Homo sapiens: one gene and its partners. The protein of the gene in region 2 purifies or fractionates together with the protein of the main gene of each other region. This does not show direct contact. Each region holds a gene or a part of one and is shown on either strand. Other genes may lie near its edges. The genes, in order: WRNIP1, REV1 and CDC27.

Region 1 (3,654 bases), on a different chromosome or scaffold from region 2:
CATGAACTGATGACATGAAATCAATAAAAATCACCCCAGACAAGTACACATGCAGAATATTAAGTTGCAGATACATTACGATAACCAGTACACAGAGCAAAGAACACACAGAAACATGAAACATGTTAGGATTTCCCCCCTTTTCTTTCAATTTGTCTTTACCATGTGGTTCTATGCGTCTGTAATGAGAATTCTGTTACGGGAAACCTACACATGAGTATCCCACATCTGAAGTGCCTGGGACCAGAAGTGGTCTGAATTTCCTATTTTTTTGATTTTAGAATATTTGCATTATATACTTACCAGATGAGCACCCAAAATCCAGAAATCTGAAGTGCTCCAATAAGCATTTCCTTTCACAGCATCATGAAGGTGCTCAAAAAGCTTTAGATTTGGGAGCATTTTGGATTTCAGATTTGGGATACTCAACCTGTACTACATATGAGGAGCTGGCAGCCCCCTTAGGCTCTGACAAATGCCCACCACATAAAGCACTTCTGAGTATGAGTCCATGTGGCTGATACCACAGGTTCCACACACTGCTTGTGGCCACAGATGTAATGGCTATCCCCATCACAACGGTATTCCAAAACAAGGCCACTCTGTCCTACCCAGTGGTCCACGGGCCAAATGTTTCAATGCTTTCATTAGACACAGCAGAATTCTCCCTCCATCTCAGACAGGAGCAAATGGGGCCAGACACATAGGGAGAGCCTGGTGAAACCTAAACCCTGAGCCTAAACTATGCCTTGTACTTTAATCCTCACAGAAAAGTGGCTCCAGAACTTGGCCTCAGGGCAGGCACGAGCAGCTGCAGAGTCCACAGCAGGAGGAGGTGGGCAATAGCCTCTCATCACACCAGATTATGTTCCATGGCAGTATTTCAGCCAACGTATGAACAAATACCATCTGAAGAATATGTTCTAATATTAAAAAAAAGGAAAACCCCTGACCCAAGAAATCAAATTATCTATGATATACACTTGGTGCATTAACGAGCTCATGTGGTACTCATGATGCAGAAATAGGTCACTAAAAGGATAGGGACAGCCTATAATGTCATATTCAGTTAACATTCCTTTACTTTCATGAAACTGAGTTTCAACTACACAAAAAGGATTACATAATTTTAAGGTTACAAGTTAATTTTTACTTGATTTTTTTTTTTTAACAAAATGCTAAACTGCAGGTTAAAAAGAAATTGAAACATGAGTACAATGCTCAAAAGAGTTGTATGGTAAGTCTAGAAAGTATTTATCTATCTATTTGTTCTATTCAATGAGGGACATAAAGCCTTTCAAATCATCAATAAGGCTTCCCATAGAAGCCTAAGCACAAAAGCAAACACCCAAGAACCAAAACAACAAAGCAAAGTTAAAGCTTGAAGAATTATAGAAACACATATTAGAGGCTGGAAAATGCATCTTCAAGTGTGCAGGGATAACTTTGTTAGGTATAATCGAACATTTCCCTCCTCTTTTATTTTCATTACGGGCGGATCAACATTTCTTCTCTGTCCCCACCCTCTCCTCACTGACGCCCGGCCCTTTCTGGCCCCCTGCCAGGAGACTCTCTGGGAGGTGTGTGCCCCCAGGACGCTGCACACTGTCAACTTACTCTGAGCTGCTGTTGCTGCTGTGGCTCAGAGGGTCAGTGGGACGGCTAGAGTCTAGGACGTGGATTCCCAGGGAGTTGATCGCTCGCATTAAAATAGTCACCATTGCCTCTACTGGAAGCTTCTCAAGAACAATCACTCGACAGCGGCTCAGAAGAGCAGCGTTGACCTGGAAGGAAGGGTTTTCAGTGGTTGCCCCAATCAGAGTGATCGTCCCACATTCCACGTGAGGAAGGAAAGTGTCCTAATCATGGGAGGAAAACAGAAAAAAGTGATTCCAGTCAACAGCCACCTGCAGAATCCTATGTAAGTTGGCTATCCCTTCCTTCCTTTTCCTCATTTTTATCTTTCGAGTTCAGGAATAGCAGCAGCCTTATATTCACTGAATATAGATGCAATATTTGGGGGAGTACAACTCTTGCTTTTAAGTCTGAAACACATCTTCTGGAATGCCCGTCCAAGCCTGATCTCTTGCTGGTAGACTAATAGCTTTAAGTAGAATTCTAGCTTAGTTTCAACATAAATGATTTCTTTACTCAGAAAACCATCTTCTACCAAAGGCTGAACTGGCACATAGCTTATATGTAACAGCTATTTATTTATAGACAAGAACACACAAAAACATTAACACTTCCAGAATCTTCTTCCACAGCAAGCACTCAATCATATTATTATTATTCCTATTATGCTGTTTTATGGGGAAAAAATACTAAGATGAGTCAGTGGTCCAATATGAAACCTAGAATGCTAACGCCTCGTCAGAACTTTAAAAGGGTCTTTTTATTCAAAAAGGTTCAAAAAAGGCTCAGTAGAGTTTTGTGAAATATTCTATGTATGATTAAAAAGTTACAAAAAAAAATTTTTTAAAGTTATGCCTAAAAATTTAATTTTTTTTTATTTAGAGTATAGCTCTCAGATCTCAGCCCAATAAAATTTTAATGTTTATTTTTTTTTAAATCCCTAAGTGGCTTTGTTTATAAAAATAGCTTGTGTCCTTTTATTTCAGAAACCCATTTAAATAAACAGTAATCATTAGCTCTTCCAACATTCACCTTGAAGACAGAGCCTGGAGTTACAGAAAATACCGATTGTTTAATTTTCAAAATAAAAATACTGTTAAAGTAATTTTTAAAAACCCATTAAAATAATGACCTTAAAATCATTATTTTACTGTTCACAATGACTCCTAGTATTTAGATTAAAAATTCCTAAAACTGGAAATTTGATTCAAAGGTGCTTTTCTGATACGTATAGCTCAGGGATATGCCAACCATTTCATTTATCAGATAGAGAAAGCATTTTCTTGTTATCAAAAAACACTAAGAAATGTATGGAGAAATAGGCTTGAAGGAGATGGGTTCACAAGCCTACGCTTCTTTGTAAACAAAGCTCGTAAGTCTCTAGCGTTTGTATAGTGATCTCACACACTTTATATTGTTTGATGTTCACAACGACCAAAAGGTAGAAGGAAGTTAATATACCTGCTGAGATTTATTGAACCGATGAATCTCATCAATAAAAAGGATGGTTTTCCTTTTGAAAAAGCTCTTTTCATTTTGAGCTTGTTTTATGACATCTCGCACATCATTTGTCTTGGCATTTGTTGCAGATAATGTCACAAACCTTATGCTATGTTTCTTGCTGTTGCTGGCTATGATGTGAGCCAGAGTGGTCTAGAAAAGATGACATACATGGAGTTTGAAAAGCTGGTAAGACACAGAGAGACCAGCACCCATGGGAACCACCACACGCAGCATCACTATTTACCAAAAGCAACTTGACCTCGGAAGAATGCTGAGCAGCACAGAAACAATCAAAAATACCACAGGACATTTAAAAACAACAACAACAAAAATATTATAAATAAAACAGGAAAGTAGCTAAACCTTAGGCTAATCCTGACCTTTTCTCCTCTGTCCCTAACCACCTTTGATTCCTTTTTGGGTGACTCTTTAAGATCTTTGGAATCCCAGTAAAGAACGGCTGTCTTGATTTAGCAGAGTGACAGCTGTGACCTCTCACCAAAGAGAAAATTCTCC
Region 2 (3,654 bases):
GTTTTAGAAACCCATCAATTAACTTCTGGGGACTGCCACAGGCCCCTGGCAGAGTTTTTGCAGGACTGTTAAGCAGCTTGTTATTCAAAGGACTCTGAATCCTTTTTGGTGAACCAATGGTTTTTTTCTTCTTGTTTCTTTTCTTTTCTTTCACTGCTGCCTTTAGATGAAGTAAAGGATTCTTTGGCACTAAGAGCAGATGGATATAAGATCCTCAACAAAATGATAGTATGGATAGTCTGGATGACAGTATTGGGTTCTCTTTTCTCCTCCCAAATACAACAGGCTCCCTAGCCTACACCTCCCCTCCTGCCCCAAGTGAGAGGCAGTGAATGGCAATGGCCCAAAGTACAGGCTCTCCAATTCTCTCTTTGCTTTGCCACTTACTAATTTGACCTTTGGCATGTTGCTCATCTATGATGGGTAGTACTAAATGTGGGTTTGATGTTTGTGATGCATTTTGAACCAACATCCTTTAATGTATTCATCTCAAAGGACAACTAGCTGAACAAGTATTTAAGACATTTGTGGTAATGTCCTATTCCAACTTTTTAAAAAGTAAAAAGTGGTGTGTTTAAATCCTGAAAGTACAGACACAAATCCAACTAGAAATATGATGATATTTACTCATACTGTATACTTCAGATATTATCCCAATATGAAGAGCTCTTAATGCAACAGCTTAGACTTTGCCCATTATATACTGCAATAATTAGACAACAGTGACTCCATTACTCTTTGTCTTCATTTTTGTTACATGCCACTTCCAAGGCTCACCAGATGCGCTGGCTGACTGCTGGTGAGTGCTGTTCTCGCCCTGCCTTTGTCTTTGATCATACGCTGCTTTCAGCTCCCTCTGAAGTTCAGCAGGAAGGGCAGCAAATACCTCAGGGTCCACCTAGTGGAAAAGACGAGGTCAAAGTCAAACCTGAGCTAATTGTAGATGGTAGCTGGTTTCTCTTTTTCACAAAACAGACTTTGTTTTCAAATCTCACTTTTCTGATCTGTACGAATTCTTAACAGTTCCCCAATATCAAAGCTGATTAAATCTTCAAAATGGTTAGAGCAAGAATAAGGAATTAAGAGCAAGAATAAGGAATTAAGAGTACTAACTTAAAGAAACCCACTACAACAGCAGAACCTGGGCAAAATGCACTAGTAGAAAATGGGAAGCAAAACATTGAAACAGGGACTCAGGTTGTTACTGTCCCCCATGCAGGATTATACATCTCCGCTCTGTTGTATTCAAGTGTGGCCATTGATGTGTTTGCCCCAGATCAGTGTGTTTCTGTCTTAGCATGCCCTCCCCCGTCTCTTCCCTGCTGCTTCAGCGGGAGGCTGCTCTGTGTCTACATCCTGCAGATGCAGGAGATGGAGACAAGCCCACTCTCCCCTCCCCTCCCCTCCCCTCCCCAGTGGATGTGGTGTCAGATACAGAGGAGAAAGGGAAGTGAGACAGGTCCTAAGTTGGAGCAGGGGGGTGAGAATATTGAAACTACAGCAGAGGGTTCCCATATTTAACTTACCTGTGAAAATGCTGGAAGGGCTATTAAATTTATTCCTGCGTCACTGTTCGATTCTTGAGGTTCTGGTATTTGCAACAAGACTGTCCCAACTGGTTGTGGCAAAATTCCTGTATTACAGCCATTTACTGGTTCTTTCTTTTTGTCGCCATGTGACTCTGCTTGCTGGACAGCACAGACTTGCTCTACTTGTTCCCGGAGATCAGGTGGAAGTGCTTCTAAAACAGACTGATCCAGCTATAAAATGCCAAACATATGAGTAGGAAGTTAAAGCATGCTCAGAGATGAGGTGTTTGGGAGTTAACACGCCACTTTAAATTTCAATTTGAATACTGTGGATAATCAATGTAAGGTACAGACCATCAAGCTAGGAAAGCCACCTCCAAATCAGCACATTTTTGGAACGTCTTGGCCTTTTGTCATTGAAGCCTGAAGTACTATGTGTAGTCTGGAAAGAAGTGTATATATACTACCAGCCACTATCACATGACCAGGTAAGTCCAAATATACTCACAGAATGTCCTGCAATTGGGGCCAACAGATATGAATAGCCTTGGTGAAGCTCAAATTAGATCCCACCCCAGGGAGGGGTGAAGGCCTGAGGCACATGTTAAAATTCTGGACAGGTAACAGTCCTGGGTCAAAAGTTCACCTTTCAGATGAGAGACTGCCCAAAAATACAAATAATTCTACTCTGAGAGCAGCACACTGGAAGAAAGGGTTTCTAGAAGCTGAATTTTCTCTAACTTACAGGACAGAATCCACTGTTCCTTTGGCCAGGGCCTACCTGTGCATCCACATCTGGCCCTTTGGAAACATGCAATCCCATCAACTGGGTGGACCAATCTTATCTTGCCAGGAGTAACTAATTGTGGGTATCTGTCGCCATACAAGCATATCAGCATTGCCCTTTCCCCTAGTTTTGCAGCCAGTATTTAACATCTCCTTCCGCCTCCTTCCATGCAGGGGGAGCAGAGGCACAAATAAACTTGCCCAATATAGCTTAAGGTGCTACCTTACTTTCAAGGACCAGCAGTATATCACATGTACAGCCCACACACGCTGAATTAAACCATCCAAATCTCCAGAGACCTGTTTGCAAATACTGCAAAAACCCTTCGACATAAGGCCTCTACTTCACCACTAATCACCAAAGCTGCCTTGCTGAATACAGTAAGTCTGCATGATGACCACTGTCACAGACAATGGCAGTCCACAGGAGGACTGCCTTTCAGCTATGCTTTACAACTTGCAAGAGTGGCAAATCTTTGCAAAAGCACTTTCACTCAACCCAAATATTGCTTATTTAGAATCCAACATCATGATCTACCCAAACAAGTGGCCCGTTCTCCCTTTCTTGGTTAAACGGATGAAGAAATAAAAATGCCATTTTCATTTGTAAACTTGTATTTTTGTATTTATATTTAGGAGTATAAAATGTACTTATATTTAGGACTACAAAAATGTACCTGGGAAGGTGACGGGACCTCTATACTCAGGTTAAGTCTCGACTGCACACTGACAGGAGTATGTAGACCATTCCATTTCCCTGAAGACTCAGCCTTGTTAGTATCAGGACTGGTCGGCAGATGTGCAGGAAAAGGTGGCAAGAAAGTGCAAGTTCTAGAAGCAGATGATATTTCCAGATCCACAGCAGCCCGAAATACTACAAAAAGAAAATATATAAAATAGCCTCTTCAGATCATCGGGCAGGGCCTTTAATCCTCTGTCCATTACAAATAAAAAAACTTTATTACTGATTCATCATAATGAAGAATATAAATTTTTAAAATCACATAAAGCTGTGTCAATTTTAAAACCAACTGCCGTCTTTCCAAGGACATAAGCAGCACCTAAAAAAGAACCACATTGATGACCACCAACCTTCTTTGTGCTCCTCTTCGGTGGATTTCTTAGCTTTCTGAACTTGGAAGACATCACGGACAGAGTATGACCCACTAGGAAAGTGGCTTGACTGAACTGATGGGCGACTGGGACATGTGGAAGGGTTCAGATTAGTTGGAACCAACTGATTCACGTGAATCCCAACCTAGAACCCAGAATAAAGAGTATGCTTCTAGGAAAACTAAAGTGAAAATATGAATTCAGCTAAGCAAAATCCTCAGCAAAT
Region 3 (3,654 bases), on a different chromosome or scaffold from region 2:
ATGCCCTAATAGAGTATAGGCATAAGCGTAATTTGGATCAACTTGGATAGCTCTCTGGAAGAATTTAATTGCAATATCATGTTCCCGTTGCAGACTGAAACAGTTCCCTGCAGCACACCAGGCCTTAAAAAAATGGGAACAAAAACCAAACAGAATTAAAATTTTACTTTTTCTAAAACCAAATCTATGACTAAAATCAAGCCTCAACTTAGAACAGAAAGACAAAAATGGAGGAGCTTCAGTAGATACTCAATTCTAATTATTCACAGATTCCATATTTGTGAATTTGTCTGATTGCTAAAATTTATTTGTAAAACCAAAATCAATACTTGCAGTGCTTTCATAGTCATCAAAAGGTATGTTCTCATTTGAGGTTGAATAATGTGACTCTACCTTCTTGTTTTAGCTCTCATGCAGAGATGACCAGGGACAGAAACTCTGTGGGCTAGTTTAGTGTAGTGCAAGAAGCTTTGGCTCTGGGGACAGTTGGACAGAATTTGAATCCCACTGCTGGCACTTTTAAGTAGGATGGCTTCAGGCAAGTCACCTCTGAACCTCATTCTCTCTCTTTTTTTTTTTTTGAGATCTGGTCTTGTTCTGTTGTCCGGGCTGGAGGGCAGTGGTGTGATCTTGGCTCAATGCAACCTCCGCCACCTAGGCTCAAGTGATCCTCCTGTCTCAGCCTCCCGAGCAGCTGGGACCACAGATGCCAGCCACCATACCTGGCTAATTTTTGTATTTTTTGTGGAGAAGGGTTTTGCCATGTTGCCGAGGCTGGTCTTGGAACTCCTGAGCTCAAGGAATCCGCCTGCCTCAGCCTCCCGAAGTGCTGGGATTATAGGTGTGAGCCACCACACCCAGCAGCATTCTCTCTTTTGTAAAGAAAATAGGATCTACCAGGATGAGTTATTTTTAGGATTCAAGATTATAATCCACAATCTATCTCTGTTTCAAACTCTCCATCACTCCCAGGAACATTGGTTCAGTAGCACTAATTCAGTGTTCATGTTGACTACAGAATTACCGCAAATAATGGGAGTTGACTGTGTTTAATTCTAAGCTTAGATATGTTACAAAAGTATCATTAAATATTTTTGAGATGCAATGAAATACAATCTTACAAGATTAGAGCATGTACATTAATTGCACCTATGTCTTACAATGACAATACTAATTTATTTTAATTTAAAATTATTAATTTTTTCAATCTATGTAACTTCTGCTCAACGAACCCTAATCTTGGTGACAACAGCAAATTTAACGTAGTCAAATCTCGATAAATCCTGAATGAAATAGCTGCTTTGTGATTTTTCTATTTGTGAATCTGCACCACACATTCTAGGACTTTCTCTTCCTCTCTGAGTCCCTGACTAGAGAGAGAGGAAAAAAAAGAAATAAGCGTGGGTGACACTAAATAGTGTTTGAATTGCTTGGTTCATCTCTATCTGTTGAGGGTGATCAAAAAGGTAACTATATAAGCAAAGTATTTTGGTTAACATACCTCTGGCGAATTTTTATCCATGTCTGTTAAGTCTTTTGACAGAACTGAAAGAGCAACATCTTTTTGAAGATGCCAAAGTGTTGTAGAGTAGATCTCCATGCCTTCAACTCTATAATTCTCAATCCTTCTAACCTCTGAGAATATTCTTTCAGCCTGAAATAAAAAAAACTAGTAAGAGAAAACAAGTTGATACAATTTATATATATACACAGGGAAAGCCCTGGTCATTATCTTCACAGGATCTAAATGCTGCCTTGTATTATGGTTTTTATGTGAATGAGTATTAACACAAGGACAAATTCAGCAATCTACTATGGCAGGTCAAATAGTGATGTAACCATATTGACAGTCAACCTAGTATTTATATACAAGCCATGGTAAGAACATGAACTCTGAAAAGGAAATTTGAGTTTCTACCAAAAAGACCGAAGAGAAATCTATACAAAGCTACAATTCAAAAGAAAAGTCAATATTTCCTTCTCAAAAACCTCATTTCCAAGTTTTAATAATGGCATTACAGAATAACTCTTTTTTTTTTTTTTTTTTGAGATGGAGTCTCACTCTGTCGCCCAGGCTGGAGTGCAGTGGCGCAATCTCGGCTCACTGCAAGCTCCGCCTCCCGAGTTCACGCCCTTCTCCTGCCTCAGCCTCCCAAGCAGCTGGGACTACAGGCGCCTGCCACCACACCTGGCTAATTTTTTGTATTTTTTAGTAGAGACAGGGTTTCACCATGTTAGCCAGGATGGTCTCGATCTCCTGACCTTGTGATCCACCCGCCTCGGCCTCCCAAAGTGCTGGGATTACAGGCATGAGCCACCACACCTGGCCAGAATAACTCTTTTAGGAAAGATGATGGAAGAATGATTTCTGTAACATAAAATCTATTTTTGAACAATTTTTACCGAGAGGTTGTGCCAGAAAATTTAGAGGGAAGAAACAGGTTAAGCTGGCTATCAATCCTATGGTTATAAATCCTATTGAGCCCTGAATATACACACCAATATTGTGTCTGCTAGGAATCATAGGCCCTACCTATTAATTATCCTTTCCTTTGCAGCACTCTCTTGACTTCAGGGTCTCTCCTCAGCTGCCTCATCAATTTTTTTCCTCATCACATTCACAGCTCCCAGAACTGTGTTTCTCTCCCTCTAAAGTTTGAGGATTTAGGTTATATAAAATCAGTTTCCTAGTTTATCAATTTACCAAGTTCAAAATTCTCAGCTGCCAGAAAAGGTCTAGGTAATAAAAAAAAAAAGAAAGGAAAAGAAATTTTCACAGTTTAGTTTATAATAAGGAATATCTGGACTATTCTTAATGAAATGAGTATGACAGAAAATAAGAGCATTTTAAAACTGAGTGCTTAATTCCAAGAAGTGGTCATATGATATATAGGAATAGCTTAACGATTTGTAACTTCCTTGCAATCTCTTAAAAGTTATAAAGGTAAGTGTGCAGCCTTGACCTGCAGGGCTCAAGTGATCCTTCCACTTCAGCCTCCCAAGTAGCTGGGACCACAGGTGAGTGCCACCACACCCAGCTAATTTTTTCATTTTTTTGTAGAGACAGGGTCTCACCACATTGGCCAGGTTGGTCTCCAACTCCTGAGCTCAAGTGATCCCCCTTCCTTGGCCTCCCAAAGTGCTGGTATTATAGGCATGAGCCACCACACCTGGCCAAGTTTTTCATTCAGGCATGGTAACAAGATAAAAGACCTACCAGCCAAATATAGGTAGGTACCTTTTGGTTTCAAAGTTTTCAGAATCTGTTGCTTCCTCTGAAAAATGATTATGGCATAGACAAAAAGAAAAATGGGAAAAAAACTCAGAAATTAAGTTGAAACAGAGGCTTTCTTTAATTAAATATTTGGGTCACCACTATAACTAGGGGAAACAATAAAATTCATTTATGTTAAAGTAGCTGTGAAACAATAAATTAGAAATAATTTTTTAAATGGCTTTTCCGAACACAGCTCTTGCCTGTCTGTGTATATGCTACATACCAGTAAAGGACCATAATCGAAACATGGGTTTTGTAGCAATGAATAAGACTTTCTGTCTTCAACTCTCTGTTCTGTACTATTCAAAATTAAATTATATGAATAGGTATCCTCTGTATGTATTCCCTGTGGGAAAGAACACCTTTCCCCTAGATCT

What was found.
Region 1: the proteins of REV1 (region 2) and WRNIP1 purify together in Homo sapiens (affinity purification with western blotting, with the first as the bait; one study listed by BioGRID). This does not show direct contact.
Region 3: the proteins of REV1 (region 2) and CDC27 purify together in Homo sapiens (affinity purification with western blotting, with the first as the bait; one study listed by BioGRID). This does not show direct contact.

Annotation. Positions count from the first base shown.
Region 1 is NC_000006.12:2,768,325-2,771,978, reverse strand, and holds part of WRNIP1 (ATPase WRNIP1), read right to left. Parts: intron 3,289-3,654; coding exon 3,097-3,288; intron 1,922-3,096; coding exon of another isoform or gene 1,866-1,921; exon of another isoform or gene 1,860-1,865; coding exon 1,618-1,859; exon of another isoform or gene 1,603-1,617; intron 1-1,602. UniProt on the Homo sapiens protein: Functions as a modulator of initiation or reinitiation events during DNA polymerase delta-mediated DNA synthesis. In the presence of ATP, stimulation of DNA polymerase delta-mediated DNA synthesis is decreased.
Region 2 is NC_000002.12:99,402,918-99,406,571, forward strand, and holds part of REV1 (DNA repair protein REV1), read right to left. Parts: intron 3,574-3,654; coding exon 3,408-3,573; intron 3,190-3,407; coding exon 2,993-3,189; intron 1,761-2,992; coding exon 1,527-1,760; intron 899-1,526; coding exon 778-898; intron 190-777; coding exon 1-189. UniProt on the Homo sapiens protein: Deoxycytidyl transferase involved in DNA repair. Transfers a dCMP residue from dCTP to the 3'-end of a DNA primer in a template-dependent reaction.
Region 3 is NC_000017.11:47,137,238-47,140,891, forward strand, and holds part of CDC27 (cell division cycle protein 27 homolog), read right to left. Parts: intron 1,655-3,654; coding exon 1,502-1,654; intron 124-1,501; coding exon 1-123. UniProt on the Homo sapiens protein: Component of the anaphase promoting complex/cyclosome (APC/C), a cell cycle-regulated E3 ubiquitin ligase that controls progression through mitosis and the G1 phase of the cell cycle.